Regions from separate parts of the Homo sapiens genome. Here region 2 is linked to region 1. The links come from fine-mapping of genetic effects on gene expression. Tissue or cell type: cerebellum. Region 1 holds a variant in brackets; the other region holds the start of a gene. All regions are shown on one strand. Distances are between the middles of the regions.

Region 1 (8,105 bases):
ATCATCTGTCCTTTCGGTTTTCATCTTGTCCATCTTGGGGAATCGTGGCATTCTAGGACATTCTGCACTCACTGGCCAGGGCCAGGGGCTCCCCGCATCAGCCACCGAGAGTGCCTACGTCCCTGCACAGACTCTCCCCCGTCTGGCCTCAGCAGAGAACCCTGACAGGACAGACGTCCTGTGCACTAATAGAAGTCAGAGGGGCCAGCTGGAACCTTCCAGATGCCACCAACTTTACCAAGCGGAGTGTGGGTCATCGCCAGCGTCCTGCCCACTGATAAGGAGACAAGGTGGTTGGGGGCACCACCCAGTGGTAACGAGGGGCGGGGAATGCAGTTTGGGCAGGTCTGAGGGACAGGGGCTTGGACCACCACACACACAGCACAGCTGCCACATCCTGAGCCTTTTCACACCCACTGCAGCCATGCAAACTCCGTGGCAGGTCCTGGGGCCGGGAGCTGCTTGCAGTGTGGCTTTCTCTAGGGCTTGCTGGCCCTGAGCTCCAGAGTTCGAAGTTCTTGCAATGGACTTTAGCCACAGTGTCCTCCGTGATTCAATGGACACAGAGGATGCATTTAGTTTATGGAGGAAGAGAGAAAACCTGCCAGTCTCAAGAACAGGGGATAACAGGGAGATTCACTGTGATTTTGGTTTCCTTTTATTCAGCTGAGCAGACATTTTATTCTCTCTGTGGGAGAGAATGAAACCACCCTCAGAGAGCCACAGGGTTTGTGAGTGGCCCTTAGTCAGGCTGCGTGTGGCTTGGGAAGTTTTCACTTTCCAGGGAATTCATGAGTCTGAGCCAAGAGCGAATATTTGGCTATTCTTCAGGCACCTTGTCCCCTCCCTTTCTCCCCTCCCCTCCTTTCTCCTTGGCTTCCACACTCCTCCCTTCCTTCCTTTCTGCCCCCTCCCTTTCTCCGTGATTCTCTTCTCTCCTCCCTCCCACTTCCTTCCCCATCCCCCTCCCCCCCTTCCCTTTTCATTTCCCTGGCTCCATCCCCTGCCTCCTCTCACCTCCCTCTCATCCCCTCCCTTCTCCCTCCCCCACTTGTGTTGGGCAGTGGCTGAACCCCTGGCAGGCCTGCACCCAGTCCTGGGAGCCCCAAGGTAGAAACATGGCCCCTGACTCCAGGTGTACCTGAGCTTGGATACAAGTGAGTACACCTGCCAGGGAGGCTGCTCTCAGGGCAGGATGTAGAGACTGATGGCGTCAAAGCAGGGGAATTTGGAGACCTGCCCAGTAGAGGAGGTTGCTCGGGTGTAAGGAGCGTGAACCGAGGTGCATGGAGGGTGGTGTAGGGCTGGCTGTGGGCCGAGGCGTGGAGTGTGGAGGAGGTATGGGTGGCTTGTTTTCTCCCTCATCCCTTTTTCCTTGGCAGAGAGTTGGGAATACTTTGAGGAGGATGTGGAGAAGGAGGAGGAGTGACAATGATGATGATGGTTATGGTGATGGTGGTGATAATGGTGATGGTGCTGATGATGGTGATGATGATAATGGTGGTGATGGTGATAATGGTGATGATGGTAATGATGATGGTGATGACGGTGGTGGTGGTGATGGTGATAATGATGATGATGGTGGTGATGGTGATGATGGTGGTGGTGGTGATGATGGTGATAATGGTGATGATGATAATGGTGGTGATGGTGATGATGGTGATGATGATAATGGTGATGATGGTGATAATGGTGATGATGGTAATGGTGATGGTGATGACGGTGGTGGTGATGATGGTGATAATGATGATGATGGTGGTGATGGTGATAGTGGTAGTGGTGGTGATGGTGGTGATAATGGTGGTGGTGGTGATGATGGTGATGTTGATGGTGGTGATGGTGATGATGATGATGGCAGTGGTGGTGATGATGGTGATGGTGATGACGGTGATGGTGAGAATGGTAGTAATGATGATGGTGATGGAAATGATGATGGTGGTGGTGATGATGATGGTGATGGTGATGATGGTGATGTTGAGGATGGTGATGGTGAGGATGGTGATGGTGAAGTTAAGATGATAAGAGAAATGGGTGCTATGTCAAGCACCTGGTGTGAGGTGGCATCACTGGCATTGGGCTTTCCTGGAGGTCTAGTTGGTCCCCCACTACCTCTCAGCACAGCAGCTGGGGTGACATTTTGAAAACCTGCTCTTCCCACTTCATGGTTTCTGGCCAGCCCTGGTCCCAGCCCATGTGTGGGACCTGCCATTTAGCTCTCCAATTTGGTAGCTCCGTCTGTCTCACCTTACCCCCAAAGTGTGATGTTAATGGTGAAATTTCAGATCTTATGAAGGACAGTGGAGGCGATATTTTGGGGGTGGGGATAGCCCTATCTGCAAATCAGCTCCAAAAGGCCACACTGTGCAGGGGTTTGGCCCCTCTCCCTGTGCATATGCTGAGCAGCCTCGTGATGACATGCTGAAAAGGAGGAAAGCTTGCATGGCCAGGCTGGCTGGCTTCAGAGAGGACAGCTCCATCTGTCTGCTCCGGGTTCCTGGCCTCTTTGGCGAGACTGGGACTGGCTCCCTACAGGACACTGTCAAGTATTCTTATTCTGTGTCTCTGCAGCCGCCTCCCTCCTCCTGCAGGCAGCCTTTTCCAGGCCATTAGCCCAGCTACGGGCCATCTGCCACCCTTGCTGAAGCCCCACAAGTTTGTCTGGGGGACAGGGCTGGGACAGCATATCTCTAGGAGGCCTGAGCCTACTACACTCCTCAGGCCCTGGGAGACTGAAACAAAGTCCTCGTCAGAGTCCTGGGGTGTGTGGCTCTGAGAATTACAGATGTCCTCACATACCTGTCAGAGGAGGCTGTGGGTGACACCTAGGTCCCCAGGCACCGCTGCTGAGCTGCTGTTTGACCTTGGGCCGGTCTCACCCTGCCTGGGCCTCAGTTTCTCCATTGCAGAAGGATGGGGTCCAGACCAAGGGGGATGAATTCTTACCATGGCAGGTGAATTCAGTGCCAGACACATCTTGTTATCTACTCATTATATCCACAAAGAAATAGGCCAGCTCCAATTTTTTCCTGAAACAAGAGGCTTCTGGATCTGTTTTTCCCCATTCTCACAAAAAATGGTGGCAAAAAACCCACTCAATTATATCTTCAATCTAGAAATGAACAGTGCGGTGCCATGATGGGTGACCTGGGACTCAGGGTGACAGTAGAGAAGGGCTCACGGGGGTGGAGGGCATGCCTGCCTGAAGCCCCAGACTCTCTCCAACTCCTCCTTTGTGGCCAGGTGGCATTGAGGGCCAGGTCTGCCAGCCGCTGATATTCAGGAGGGCTAGAAAGCTGGATTTTAATGTAAAATCTTCTTATTGTTCAGTGCTGGCAACTAACGCCAAAAGACTTTAATTACTGAATGCCAGCCAAGCGCATCTGCAGGCTCCACTGGTTTGGTCTGTAGGTCAACAGTTGCTGACCTCTGGCCCAAGGGGATGGCCCGTGAGGGCCTGCCCTTTGCTGTGATGCATGTGGTGAGCTCTCTGGCCAAGCAGGGTCTCTATGATGCTCACTAGGGATGCCAGGTGGTCTCAAGGTATGAAACGTCTTCTGGCAGCAGCTCAACACAATTTGGAGGAGTTGGGTCTTTACTCAGGGCCCCTGCTGTGGGGCCTGTAGCTGTTGGAGGGGAATCCAGTGCAGACAGATGGGTCTCTGGGAAGCTCTAGCTGGCTAAGGTCAGCCAGTAGGTGGGATGCCAGGACGCAGTGCAGGTGGAATGACACAGGGCCTCCCTGGACTTTAGAACAGTTTCCCTCCAGATCCAGCATCTATTTATTCTGCAAACCCTCAGCTCCTGCCTGGGACTGTGCTTACATACAGGTGTCCACATAAGGAAGAAACTGACTTGGCAGTGTGGCTGCCTGGAGGAGGAGGCAGTGACAGACAAGGAGAAGGGAACGGGAGGATGTCCCAGGAACAGCCTGTACAAGGCACCCCTAAACCCAGCCTGTCATTAAGTCCTGTGAATGCACCTATAAATTGTAGGCCTGGATGACTCCCTTTTATTCTTCTGACCATAACCAACATGCCTGAAGGCTCAGTTCATGCCAGCTTCCTGTAAACCACCTGTGC[C/A]GTGAATTCTCTCATTTAACCCTCACACAGCCTATGAGATAGGTACAGATCTGCAAACCCTTGGGGACCCATGTGCTTTGGAAGTCAAGAATATCCTTTTCATTTTAGAAAGGGTAACATGAGTTCTGTTTCTGGTAATGGTAGGGTAGCTGACATCAGAGCAGTCCTGCTGTTATTAAATAACTGTCAACTCTGGGAAGAATCAAAAGCAACCGTTTGAAGATACAGGAGAGCAAATAAAAGAAGGCAGAAGCTGGAAAGGACATGGTCTGTATGAATTTCCTGTTGCTGATGTCACAAATGAACACAAACTCAATGGCTTAAAACAATATGCCTTTATCATCTAACAGTCCTGGAGGTCAGCAGTCTGAAACCAGTCTCACCGGGTTAAAACCAGGGTGTCCATGGGGCTGCACTCCCTCTGGAAGCTCTAGGGGAGAGTCTCTTCTTTGCTTTTTCCAGCTTCTAGAGGCTGCCTGCCTTCCTTGGCTCATAACCCTGTCCTCACATCACTCCAGTCTCTTTCTTCCATCATCACATCTCCTCCTACTCACCCTGATCTTCTGCCTCCCTCTTACAAGGACGCTTGAGGTTACCCTGGGCCCACCCAGATAATCTAAAATCATCTATCCATCTCAAGAGCCTTAATTTAATCATATCTACAAAGTCCCTTTTGTCATAGAAGTTCACATTCACAGGTTACATGGGTTAGGACATGCATATGTTTTAAGGGGGCTTTGTTTTTAGCCTACCACGAGCATATATGTTTATAGTTGTGGTATCTCTTGATGGACTGACCCTTTTATGATGGTATAATGTCCTTGTTTGTCTCTAGTAACAATTTTTTTAAATTAAATTTATTTAGTCTGATATTATTATAACCATTTTAGCTCTCTTTTGGTTGTTGTTTACATGGAATATCATTTTATATCTGCCTGTAATCCCAGCACTTTGGGAGGCCAAGGTGGGTGGATCACAAAGTCAAGAGATCAAGACCATCCTGGACAACATGGTGAAAACCATCTCTACTAAAAATACAAAAATTAGCTGGGCATGGTGGCATGTGCCTGTAGTCCCAGCTACTTGGGAGGCTGAGGCAGGAGAATCACCTGAACCCAGGAGGTAGAGGTTGCAGTGAGCTGAGATTGCACCACTGCACTCCAGCCTGGCAACAGAGCAAGACTCCATCTCAAAATAAATAAATAAATAAATAAATAGAAATAAAAATTTATTGAGACAGGCTGGAGTGCAGTGGTGTGATCACAGCTCACTGCAGTCTTGATCTCCTGGGCTCAAAGGATCCTCTGGCCTCAGTCTCCCAAGCAGCTGGGACTATAGGTGTGCACCACTGCATCTGGTGAATTTTTTATTTTTTGTAGAGACAAGGTCTCACTGTGTTGCCAAGGCTGGTCTCAAACTCCTGAGCTCAAGTGATCCTCTTGTGTTGGCTTCCCAAAGTGCTGGGATTACAGGCATAAACCATTGTGACCAGCCTCATTTTATATCTTTTTACATTTAACTTATTTGTGCCTTTCAATCTAAAATGTGTCTCTTGTAGGCAGCATATTGTTGCATCATGAAAAAATGCCTATTCTGGTAATCTGTGCTCTCATATGGAGTGTTTCTATATTACAAGTGGGTGAACATCTTGGTAGGGAGCATTATGCAGCCTACAAGAAAAGATTTAAAAAAATTATCTAAGCTGCTTAACTCAAAAAGCTAGAAAAAAAGAACAAATTTAACTTTCATGATTTAGACAGAAAGATGTAATAAATACAGATAAACAGAAATTAAATAGAAAACAGATGAACACTATAGGAAAAATCAATAAAAGTTGGTTCTATGAAAAGATTACTAAAATTGATAAAGCCCTAATGAGAATTTTCAGGAGAAAATGCAAAGTACCCATAGTAAAAATAAAAAAGAGATATGTGAATTTGATAGACAATAAAAGATTAATAAGGGGATATGGTATACAAGTTTATGCTAACAAATTCAAACTCAGATAAAATGAAGTGGACAAATTCCTTGAAAAAGAAAACTGACACAAGAAGAAAAAGAGAATCTGAATAGCCCTATATTTGTTAAAGAAATTGAAATTGTGTTTTAGAACCTGTTCACAAAAACCCAATTGGCTTCATTGGTGAAATAATATTGGTTTTATCCAAACTCTTACACAGAGTTGAGCAAGAGGAAATAATTGATGCCCAAACCTGAAAAGGACATCACTAGAAAATAAATGAGACACCAACCTCTCTCATGAACACAAATGCAAATACCCATTTCAAAATATTCATAAATCAAATCCACCAATATATAAAAAGGATAATATGTCATGGCCAAGTGGGGATTGTCAGGCCTCTGAGCCCAAGCTAAGCTATCATATCCCCTGTGACCTGCACGTATACATCCAGATGGCCTGAAGCAACTGAAGATCCACAAAAGAAGTGAAAATAGCCAGTTCCTGCCTCAATTGATGACATTCCACCATGGTGATTTGTTCCTACCCCACCCCAACTAATCAAACGACCTTGTGACATTCCTCCCCTGGACAACGAGTCTCATGATCTCCCCACCGAGCACCTTGTGACCCCTGCCCCTGCCCGCAAGAGAAAACCCTCTTTAACTGTAATTTTCCACTACCTACTCAAATCCTATAAAACTGCCCCACTCCTATCTCCCTTTGCTGACTCCTTTTTCAGACTCAGTCCACCTGCACCCAGGTGATTGAAAAGCTTTATTGCTCACACAAAGCCTGTTTGGTGGTCTCTTCACATGGACATGCGTGACAGGGACTATCCAAGGAATACAAAGTTAACATTTGAAAATAAATCAGTGCAATTCCTCCCATTAACAGACTAACAAAGACAAACTGCATGGTCGCATTAATAAATGAAGGAACAAAAAGTTGATGGAATTCAATACCTATGTGTGATTAAAGGAAGTCAGAAAATTGGGAATAGATGGGAATCATATCACTATGATGAGGCGCACATACAAAAAGCCTGCAGCTAACATGTTTAATGGCAAAACATTGAGCACTTTCCTGAAAGGTTGGGAATGAGGTGAGGATGTCCACTTTTACTATTTCTATTAACATTGTATGGGAGGTCTTAATGAGTGATATAAAACAAAGAACAAAAAGTGCAAAGACCAGAAAGGAATTAGTAAAATTATTTCTAATTATTATTATTTATAATAACTATTAATCATGTGTTAATTATAATTATTAAAATTTTCCTAATTCTTATATTTATCACTATTAATCATGCATCATTTTAATTATTATTCACAATAATTATTCATTATTCATTATTTACAATAATAATGTCATGCAAATGATTTGATTGTATACGTAGAAACTCCTAAGCAGTTTTCAAAAAGACTATTAGAATAAGTGAATTCAGCAAGTTCACAGGATAGCTGTTAGATAAATATAAAAAAATCAAAGTCAATATACAAAAATAATACAAACTATCAATATACAAACAATATACAAACTATCAATGAATATTGGAAAAAGCAAATAAAAGATTATTTTTACATAGCATTGAGAAACCTTAAATAACTAGCAATACATTTTACCTGAAATGTATAACACACCTACAGTGAAAACTACAGAGACAGAAATGAAAGAAGACCACAATAAACAGAGAAAAACCATGTTCATAAATTGGTAAACTCAATGTTGCCAAGACGTCCGTTCTCCATAAGTTGATCCAGAGTAACTGAATAGAGTCAATGCTATCCCAGTCAAAATCAGTAGACATTTGCACAAACTGTCAAGCTGATTCTGAAATTTATATAGAAATGTAAATCTTGAAGAAGAAATATAAAAGTGTAGGAGTAACACCACTTGATTTCATAACTTAATGTAAAACTGCAGTAATGAAGACAGTGCGGTGTTGATAGAAGGACAGTGAAATAGAGCAGTCAACAGAATAGAGTCCAGAAGTCGACCCACCCTATACAATCAGTTGATTTACAATACAGATGCCAATGCAATCCAATGGGAAAAGGGGTTTT
Region 2 (8,105 bases), 24 kb after region 1:
GAGAGTTGGGTGGGTGACCAAGGGAATGGTGAGACCCTCCAGGAGAAGACCCCTCTCTCATTTCCACCCTCAGCCACCTGACCTAAGCTTCTCTTCCCTAAGACACTCAGGAGGAAGGTGTCCCCATTCCTCCCCTCCCCATGGTTACCTGGCCTCAAGAGCCTTCCGTGGGGCTGGTCCCTGTAGGCCAGGTGGGGGCAGGGACCAGGAGATGTGGGGAGAGGGTCTGAGACCCATGGGGCTCCCTGTTGCTAGTGGTGCCTTGATCCTCAGAATGGGCTTTTTTTTTTTTTTTTTTTTTTTTTTTTTGGAGATGGAGTCTGGCTCTGTTGCCCCAGGCTAGAGTGCAATGGCACCATCTCGGCTCACTGCAACCTCTGCCTCCCGGGTTCAAGTGATTCTCCTGTCTCAGCCTCCCGAAGAGCTGGGATTACAGGCGTGCATCACCATGCCCAGCTAATTTATTGCATTTTTAGTAGAGACAGGGTTTCACCATATTGGCCAGGCTGGTCTCGAACTCCTGACCTCGTGATCCGCCTGCCTTGGACTCCCAAAGAATAAAATATGACTTATTTTAAAGTCATAGGCAGAGCAGGAGGCACCGCCCATGTCTAATGAGTGGTGTGACCACAGAGGGACAGCTTACAGTGGCTGTGGGGCTTTTCGTCATCATCTTAAAGCAGCCCTCAACTCTTTGAGGCCTTTCCTTGACATCCATGAGGGGTTGTTTGCCAGTGGGCTCCCAGTCCCCAGCCCTCCAGCTTGGTCACACCATGCAGCCACATCAGGGCCACAGGAAAACTCCCTTTCCCCTGGCCATGTCCCTGCTGTCCTACAGCAGGACTCCAGCCCTCTGCAGGGTAGGGGGCACATGAGGAGGCTGCATCCTGCTCAACGTTGCCCGCCCTTTCCCCATGGGGAGAAGAGGGAGCTGTCTGATGATGGGGCTGGGAGGGGCCCTGAGCTTCCATGGCGTCTCCAGCCTCCCTCCATCCCCTCCCAAGGCAGTCGGCTCACGGGGACAGGTCCTGCGGGAGGGGTACTGAGTCCTGGGAGGCAGCACAAATCCCAGGGGACCTAGGCTGGAATCGGAGTCTTCATCACAGCTTTGCCAGAAATACAGCAAGTAATAGACTCTAGGAGACTGCCAGGTGCTCAGAGCCGGAGACATGCCTGCAGATACCCGGCCCCATGCTGCCCCTGTGGTTACCTGGCCCGTCATGTGTCTCTGAGTGCTTGGTGACCCCAGCTTCTCCTCTTGGGGTTGGGGGAGAGGGGATGGGGCCTTGCCTCTCCCCAGAGACTGGCTGGGGTCAGGGGCCGACACCAGGTGCCCCTCCCACCTTGGTGGTGGCTGGTCCTCCTGTGTCCTGGGAGGGCTGGGGTTTGGGGTGAGGAGGGTGGGGGTACAAGCAGAAACCCCCATAGCTGGTCTTAGCGGCTTCTTCCCACCTCAAGGTTGTGCTCAGAACCCCTGCTGTCTCCCTCCAGTGATAGGAGCACCCGAGACCATGCAGGGGGACGCTGCGGTGCTGGGATGCTGGGGAGAGGTGGCCCGGGGCGGGGCTATCGCTGAGCACAGAGGTGCCAGCCACCCCGTGAGGTGCTGGTCATCTCCCTCGGCTTACACCCTCAGCTCTGTGGTCTTTTGTTTGACTGGGGTGAAATGACAGCCTGAGGTTGTCCCCGCCTCAGGGGTGGGCATGGGGGTGGGGGGCTCAGTGGAGAGGAGGCCCCAGTCCCAGCACCTCAGGAAGCTGAGTCCTGCCCGTGGTCCAGTCTGAATCTCCTGCGGGTGGAGTCAAGCCTGGTTGGAGATATAGGGCTCTTCCTCCTGTCCCTGTGCTCCATCCTAGCACCCAAGGCCCCGGGAAGGCAGACCATGGGTGGGAGGTGAGGTGGTGGTGGAGGGAGCCCCACCTGGGCCAGCATCATCAGGAGGACACCCTGAGTGGGGCAGACGGGGCATCACTGCCATGGCAGGTGGGGAGATGTGGGGAGGGGGACAGATGCTCTCCTACTCAGGATAGCTTGGGGGGGTCACCAACCCTCAGGCCCAGAGGGAGGCAGAGATGAGTTTTGGGAGGTCTTAAGTCTGTTGATGGTGGACCCCCTCCCAGGCACAAGTCCCGTCCACCCATGGACGGAGCTATCTCCGGGATCTACCAGCAAGCTCCAGCCCCAAAGCAACAGGTGGGGTTTCTCCAGCCTGTGGCCCACCAAGGGCCATGGTCCCTCTCCTATCTCACCTCCTGCATGGCTGAGGAGGACACGGGCCTCATGGGTGGGCCCCAGGGAGAGAGCATGGCAGGGAAGCGATGGACATAGAGGGAGAGGGGAGAGTGCAGGAAGGGGAGAGGCATGAAGAGATGGGGGACAGAGAAGGAAACAGGGAGGAGAACAGGGGGACAAGGGGTTAGAGCCACGGAGCTCAGCCAGACCCTGCTGCTGCCCCCTCTCTGCTGTGACCCTGGAGGAGGTCTCCCTGTGGGACCATGTGCCCCACTGGGGGCTCGGGAGGGAGGCAGAGCTCTGTAGGAAGGGTCGCCACAGTTGGGTTACAGGACTGTGGGGAGTAGAGGAGTTTGTTGCATCCTTGGTGAGCAGGAGGAAGAGGAGAGGGAGGAGAAGGAGGGGAGGAGGCGGGGGAGGACGATGGAAGAGAACAGGAGGGAGGAGGAGGAGGGGGAGGAGAAGGAGGGGAGGAGGCGGGGAAGGACGATGGAACAGAAGAGGAGGGAGGCACAGCATTCCCCATCCCTGGGTGGTCCAGGAGTGGCTCTGTGTCCCGCCCAGACAGCCAATACTGAGAAGCCCTGAGGCTGAGCACCCAGGTGTGGCAGGGAGGAGAGGGCCTATCCCCGGCTGCCCCCATGACTCCCCTTGAGAGTCTGCACCTGCAGGGAACACTCTAGATCATGGAGGAAGCAAGGCAGACAGGAGACAGAGCCACCGGGGGTGGGGGGTTGGGGAGCCATCACCCAAGCTATCGTCCTCTTCCAGACTCAGCCCAGGGCTGGCTGCGGACCAGGTGGTGCGGCCCGTCAGAGGGCGGAGGCTGCAGCCTGGAGAGCTCCCTGTTGATAGCATCTGCTGTTGCCCACGCCCCACCCCTGCCACCATCTGGCCAGCAAAAGAGCCCAGAAAATGCCGAGCGCCTGGGCCGGCCCCAGAGACCCACCCTGATCCAGCCACCTGCGCTACTCACCGTTTGGGGCAGAGGACTGGCCGAGCCCTGCCTGCTCTGACCCTGGGCCTTGGATCTATCCTGGCCGCGGCCGAGGGCTCCAGTCCCCAGAGCCTCTGGGCGGCTCCTGTTCAGTGTCCACCAGCTCCTCCGAGTCACATGGCATCCAGCTGGAATGGGGCCGGTCAGGAAGGTGTCTCTCTGAGGACCCCTTCTCTTCCGCTCAGCTCTCGCCCAGGTGTGGACAGCAAGAGAAACCCTGAACCTCCCTGCAGCCTTCCAGGCAGGCCTGGCAGGCAGAGGAAACCACGAGATCTCTGGGTGGAGCCCAGCCAAGCTGTGACTTCACTGGCACTCCTGGCTCAGAGACACCAAGCCCTGTAGGGCCCTTTAGGGACCACTTCTTTCCATCTGTGCCTCGGAGGGGCCGGCTGAGAGCCGGGCTACCGGCGGAACTTGTCCTTGCAGCAAAAATGTGTTTTTCTCTCCGCAGAGCACAGGCTGCCGGCCCCAGCTCTCCAGGCAGTGTGGGACCGCGGGGAGGAGCGGGGATGTGCGTGAGGCCGTCCCTCCTGCCTCGTTCGCAGGCACAGAGTAGATGGCCGGTGTCAAGAAGCTGCCGCGCGGTCCCCGGCCGAGGAGAATCAAACACATACAGCAGCGTCAGGCTCCGGGAGACCTCGTGAACTCAGTGATTTCAAGTCCCGTTTCAGACCGTGCCTTTCCTTCCAGTGCCCTGCCTTAAGGGAGATCGCAATTGACGTGCCAAGAGAAGGAAAACAAGGTCATTTTTTGGCCTCTGTTCCTCCCCGAGTCCAGGCCCTAGCAACTCTTTTCTCATCTTTGTCTTTAGAAAAATCTCCGAGGTAGAGAAGAGTGCAGAAACAGCACGGATTTGCTCCGGAGCGTTTCCCACTCTGCGCAGTCCGCCTGACCTCTCCTCTTGCGGACCAAGTGAGAGCAAGTTTCCCGCACGTGGCCTTTGACCTGTCACTACATCAGCAGGCATCCCCCAGGGCACCGGCATCCTCCATCCCCAAAACGGAGGGGCCGCACACAGGTCGTCTGGCGTCTGTGCAATGCTGGTGTCTGATGAATGTGTCGCGCTGGTGTCTGACGTCCATGCGGGGCTGGTATCTGACAGGCAGCAGTGCCGCTTGCTGAGTTGTGTCTCAGCTTCAAATCCTCCCTTCCTAAACCAGGATCCGAGCTGCCAGGTGCCCGAGGCTCTGTAAACCATGCCTGGGCTCTGCCACCGCTCTGGGAGGCCCTACCAGTGGGTGGTCACTCAAGGATGGCCCAGGGGTGTGGGGGAAGTGCTCCCAATCGCCCCACACGTTCCAAATATCTCACCCTTCTAAGTGCCACACTCCCTCCAGTTGTCCCACAGTTCCAATAGTGCCACTCCTTTCAATTGTCCATCCCACCCTTTCATAAGTTCCATGCCTTCCACTTGTCTTACACCTTAAAGCTGTCCCACCCTTCCAAATGCCCGACCCTTCCAATTGTCCCACTCCTTCCAACTGTCCCACTCTTCCATTTGTCCCACTCTTCCATTTGTCCCACTCCTTCCAATTGTCCCACTCTTCCAATTGTCCCACTCCTTCCAATTGTCCCACTCTTCCATTTGTCCCACTCCTTCCAATTGTCCCACTCTTCCATTTGTCCCACTCCTTCCAATTGTCCCACTCTTCCAATTGTCCCACTCCTTCCAATTGTCCCACTCTTCCATTTGTCCCACTCCTTCCAATTGTCCCACTCTTCCATTTGTCCCACTCCTTCCAGTTGTCCCACCCTCCAATTATCCCACCTTCCAATTGCATTAGCCTTCCAACTGTCCCACCCTTCCAATTTTCCCACTCTTTCCAATTGTCCCAGCCTTCCAATTGCCTCATCCTTTTAATTATCCCACTCTTTTAGTTGTCCCCCTCCTTCCAATTGCCCCATTCTTTCCAATGGTCCCACTTTTTAAATTGCCCTTCCCTTGCAATTGTCCCCCTCTTTCAATTGACCCACCTTTCCAATGGTCTTACCTTCCAATTGATCCACCTTTCCAATGGTCTCACCTTCCAGTTGTCCCACTCCTTCCAGTTGTCCCACTCCTATCAATTGTACTGCCTTCCAATTGCCTCACTCTTCCAATTGTCCCACCCTTCCAATTTCCCCACAGTTTTAATTGTCCCACTCTTTCAATTGTCCCACCCTTCCAATTGTCTCACCGTTCCAATTGTCCAACCCTCCCAATTGTCCCACTCCTTCCAATTGTTCTACCTTTTTAATTGTCCTACCATTCTAGTTGTCCCACCCTTCCAACTGTCCCACTCTTCCAATTGTCCCACCCCTCCTATTGTCCCACTCCTTCCAGTTCCCCTACCCCTCCAATTGTCTGACTCTTTCCAATTAGTCCATCTTCCTTTATGTTTTCGAGCTTCACTTTCACTCCCTGTCAGAGTTGCCCCAGCAACTCTCTCTCTCTCTCTTTTTGAGACAGAATGCCACTCTGTTGGCCAGGCTGAGGTGCAGTGGCATGATCACAGCTCACTGCAGCCTCCAACTTGCAAGCTGAAGCATTTTTTCCTCAGCTTCCTGAGTAGCTGGGACTTCAGGCATGCACCAAGTGCCAGGCTACCAGAGGCTTGTCTGGCTAATTTTTAAATTTTTAACTTTATAGAGATAGGGTCTCGATACATTGCCTAGGCTTGTCTCTAGTTCCTGATCTCAAGCAATCCTCCTGCCTTGGCCTCCGAAGGTGCTGGGATTATAGCTGTGAGCCACCATGCCTGGCCCGCAGCAACTTTCTCCACCTTGTAGCAGCAGTGGACTTCTGCAGTTTTCCCAGCACTTGAAAAACCAGACCCATTGTTTCCTGTTGGAGACACTGGCCACTAACTGGCTGGGAGCCCCCTCAGGGGCCTGAATTACACTCTAGTCGTCCCCACTGGTCCTAAATTTCAATAGTTTTAACTTCCTTCCTTTGTTCCCCGTGCCCGGGGTGGCGGCTCTTTTTGCAGTTGTTTCTTCTCTAATACCTTAGTGTTCCCTTTGTACGTGTTTGGTTTTTCAGTCTCTAGTGAACAATTCTTTAAGATCATCCCTTCAAAATTATAGGTAGCTTCTGCCTACTGACTGTGTCCCTGCTGGTACTGAAAGGTCCTAGGGGAAACATGGTAATTTAGGCTTGGTTTGGTCATGTCCTTGGCCTTGACTGTCGTGATGAGTTTCTGGTCAGTGACACTGGTGATCCATGCCACTCTGTGGCTCATCATCAATCAAACAAGCACTTGTGATGGGTTATGTTGAAGTCAGTGCCTTGGGGGACCATTTGCCTATTGGACTTGATCATCATAACATTCATGGGGACCAGGAGCACTGTGGCATGTGACAGGATTGGAGCTTCAAGAAAGAGGATGACGACTTCTACTTCTGGTTCTAAAGGGGCAATAGGGGCTGGAATCACCCTCCCATTATAAAAATCTAAAAAACCAAAACACGGTTTGTGAATTTAGACAACAGGCCGAGCAGGACTGTGGTCCCAAGAAAATGGAAGCTGATGGGCACGCCCTATGCTCACCCAAACTTTCTGTCTGGAGGTGGCTTCCGGACTGCAACACAGGCCAGAAGAGGCAAAGGGGCTCAGCAGGTTAAATGCCAAATCAGGAGAAGGTTGAAAACAACACAGGTAAGACTGGCAGTCAAGACAACAGCAAATGGACAAGCTGTAGAGAAAAGCAATGACATCAAAGGTGTTTTATTTAAGATGATTAATAAAATGGAATAACCTTGGATGGACTGATTAAGAAAACAAAAAGTGCTTGAGCTCAGGAGTTCGATACTAGGATACTAGCCTGGGTGACATAGCACAATCCTGACTCTACAAAAAATACAAAACAAACAAACAAACAAACAAAAAAAACAAAATTGTCTAGGTATGGTGGTGCATGTCTGTGGTCCCAGCTACTCAAGAGAGGGAGGCTGAGGTGGGAGAATGGCTTGAGCCTGGGAGGTTGAGGCTGCAGTGAGCCAAGATCAGGCCACTGCACTCCAGCCTGGGTGACAGAGCAAGACCCTGTCTCAAGAAAAGAAAAAAAAAAAAAAAGAAAAGAAAAAAGAGAAACTGCAAATCACCTATATATTGGTAACGAAAGAGGGGATACCACTACCGGTCCCAGATACTTAAATGGTAAAGGTGGAATGTAAAAATAAACTGTATGCCAATAAGCTTGACAATTTGGATGAAATGGTCAAATTCTTTGAAAGACACAATGAAAACATGAATAGTTCTCAATATGAAAACAATGAGCTCGTAATTTAACACTTTCTCTCAAATAAGTCTCTAGTTCCAAATTGCTTCACTGGCAAATCTATAAGATAGACAAAAAATAAATAATCCCAACCCTGCAAAACTCTTTTAGAAAACAGGAGTAAGGAACATGCCAATTCATTTTAGGAGGCCAGCATTAATCTAATAATCTGATATACAAACTGGACAAAGACATTCTAAGAACAAAAAACTACAGACCAATATTGTCATGAACATAGGCTCAAAACACTTCATATAATATAAGGAAGAATTGTAAGCCATTTGAGTTTATCTTAGAATGATGAAGGATTTATAAGGTGTAACTGGGGTTTTGCTTTTTTTAAATGTGAGGGAATTTATATCAGTTGAATTGTTTGGACTTTTTCCTGCTTTTTCTTCCAGAACCTTTGTATAGATGAAGACTATGTCTCTGCATTTTTGTGCGTAAGGATGGCAAGATAGAGTGGTTTAAAAGATGCCAGTTTATGAGCTTCTTTTTTGGTCAGTCTTGGAAAACATAATTTTTTTTAGAGCAGGGTGGGGGGCATACAGTGAGAGAAGAGAATTTTTTGTCCTGCAAACTTTTGATTTTTTTCGTCTTGCAAAATACTAGCCCCC

Direction of the effects. Alleles are on the strand shown, and positions count from the first base shown. SD is a standard deviation of normalised expression in the study named.
In carriers of allele A in region 1, the expression in cerebellum of the gene that starts at base 3,485 in region 2 tends to be higher than with C alone (moderate effect, 0.51 SD a copy in GTEx).

The links. PIP is the estimated chance that this variant, and not a neighbour inherited with it, causes the effect.
Region 2: it holds the start of MRGPRE, and the variant in region 1 is fine-mapped to the expression of MRGPRE in cerebellum (GTEx, PIP 0.99).

The regions. Positions count from the first base shown.
Region 1 is chr11:3,205,160-3,213,264 of GRCh38, forward strand. No RefSeq gene overlaps it. Among named protein-coding and RNA genes, the nearest start is that of MRGPRG-AS1, 9.1 kb to the right of the region's middle. The variant C/A (reference allele first, on the strand shown) is at 4,080.
Region 2 is chr11:3,228,933-3,237,037 of GRCh38, forward strand. MRGPRE (MAS related GPR family member E) reads right to left here and starts at 3,485. Exons shown (of 2, transcript NM_001039165.4): 1 at 3,209-3,485.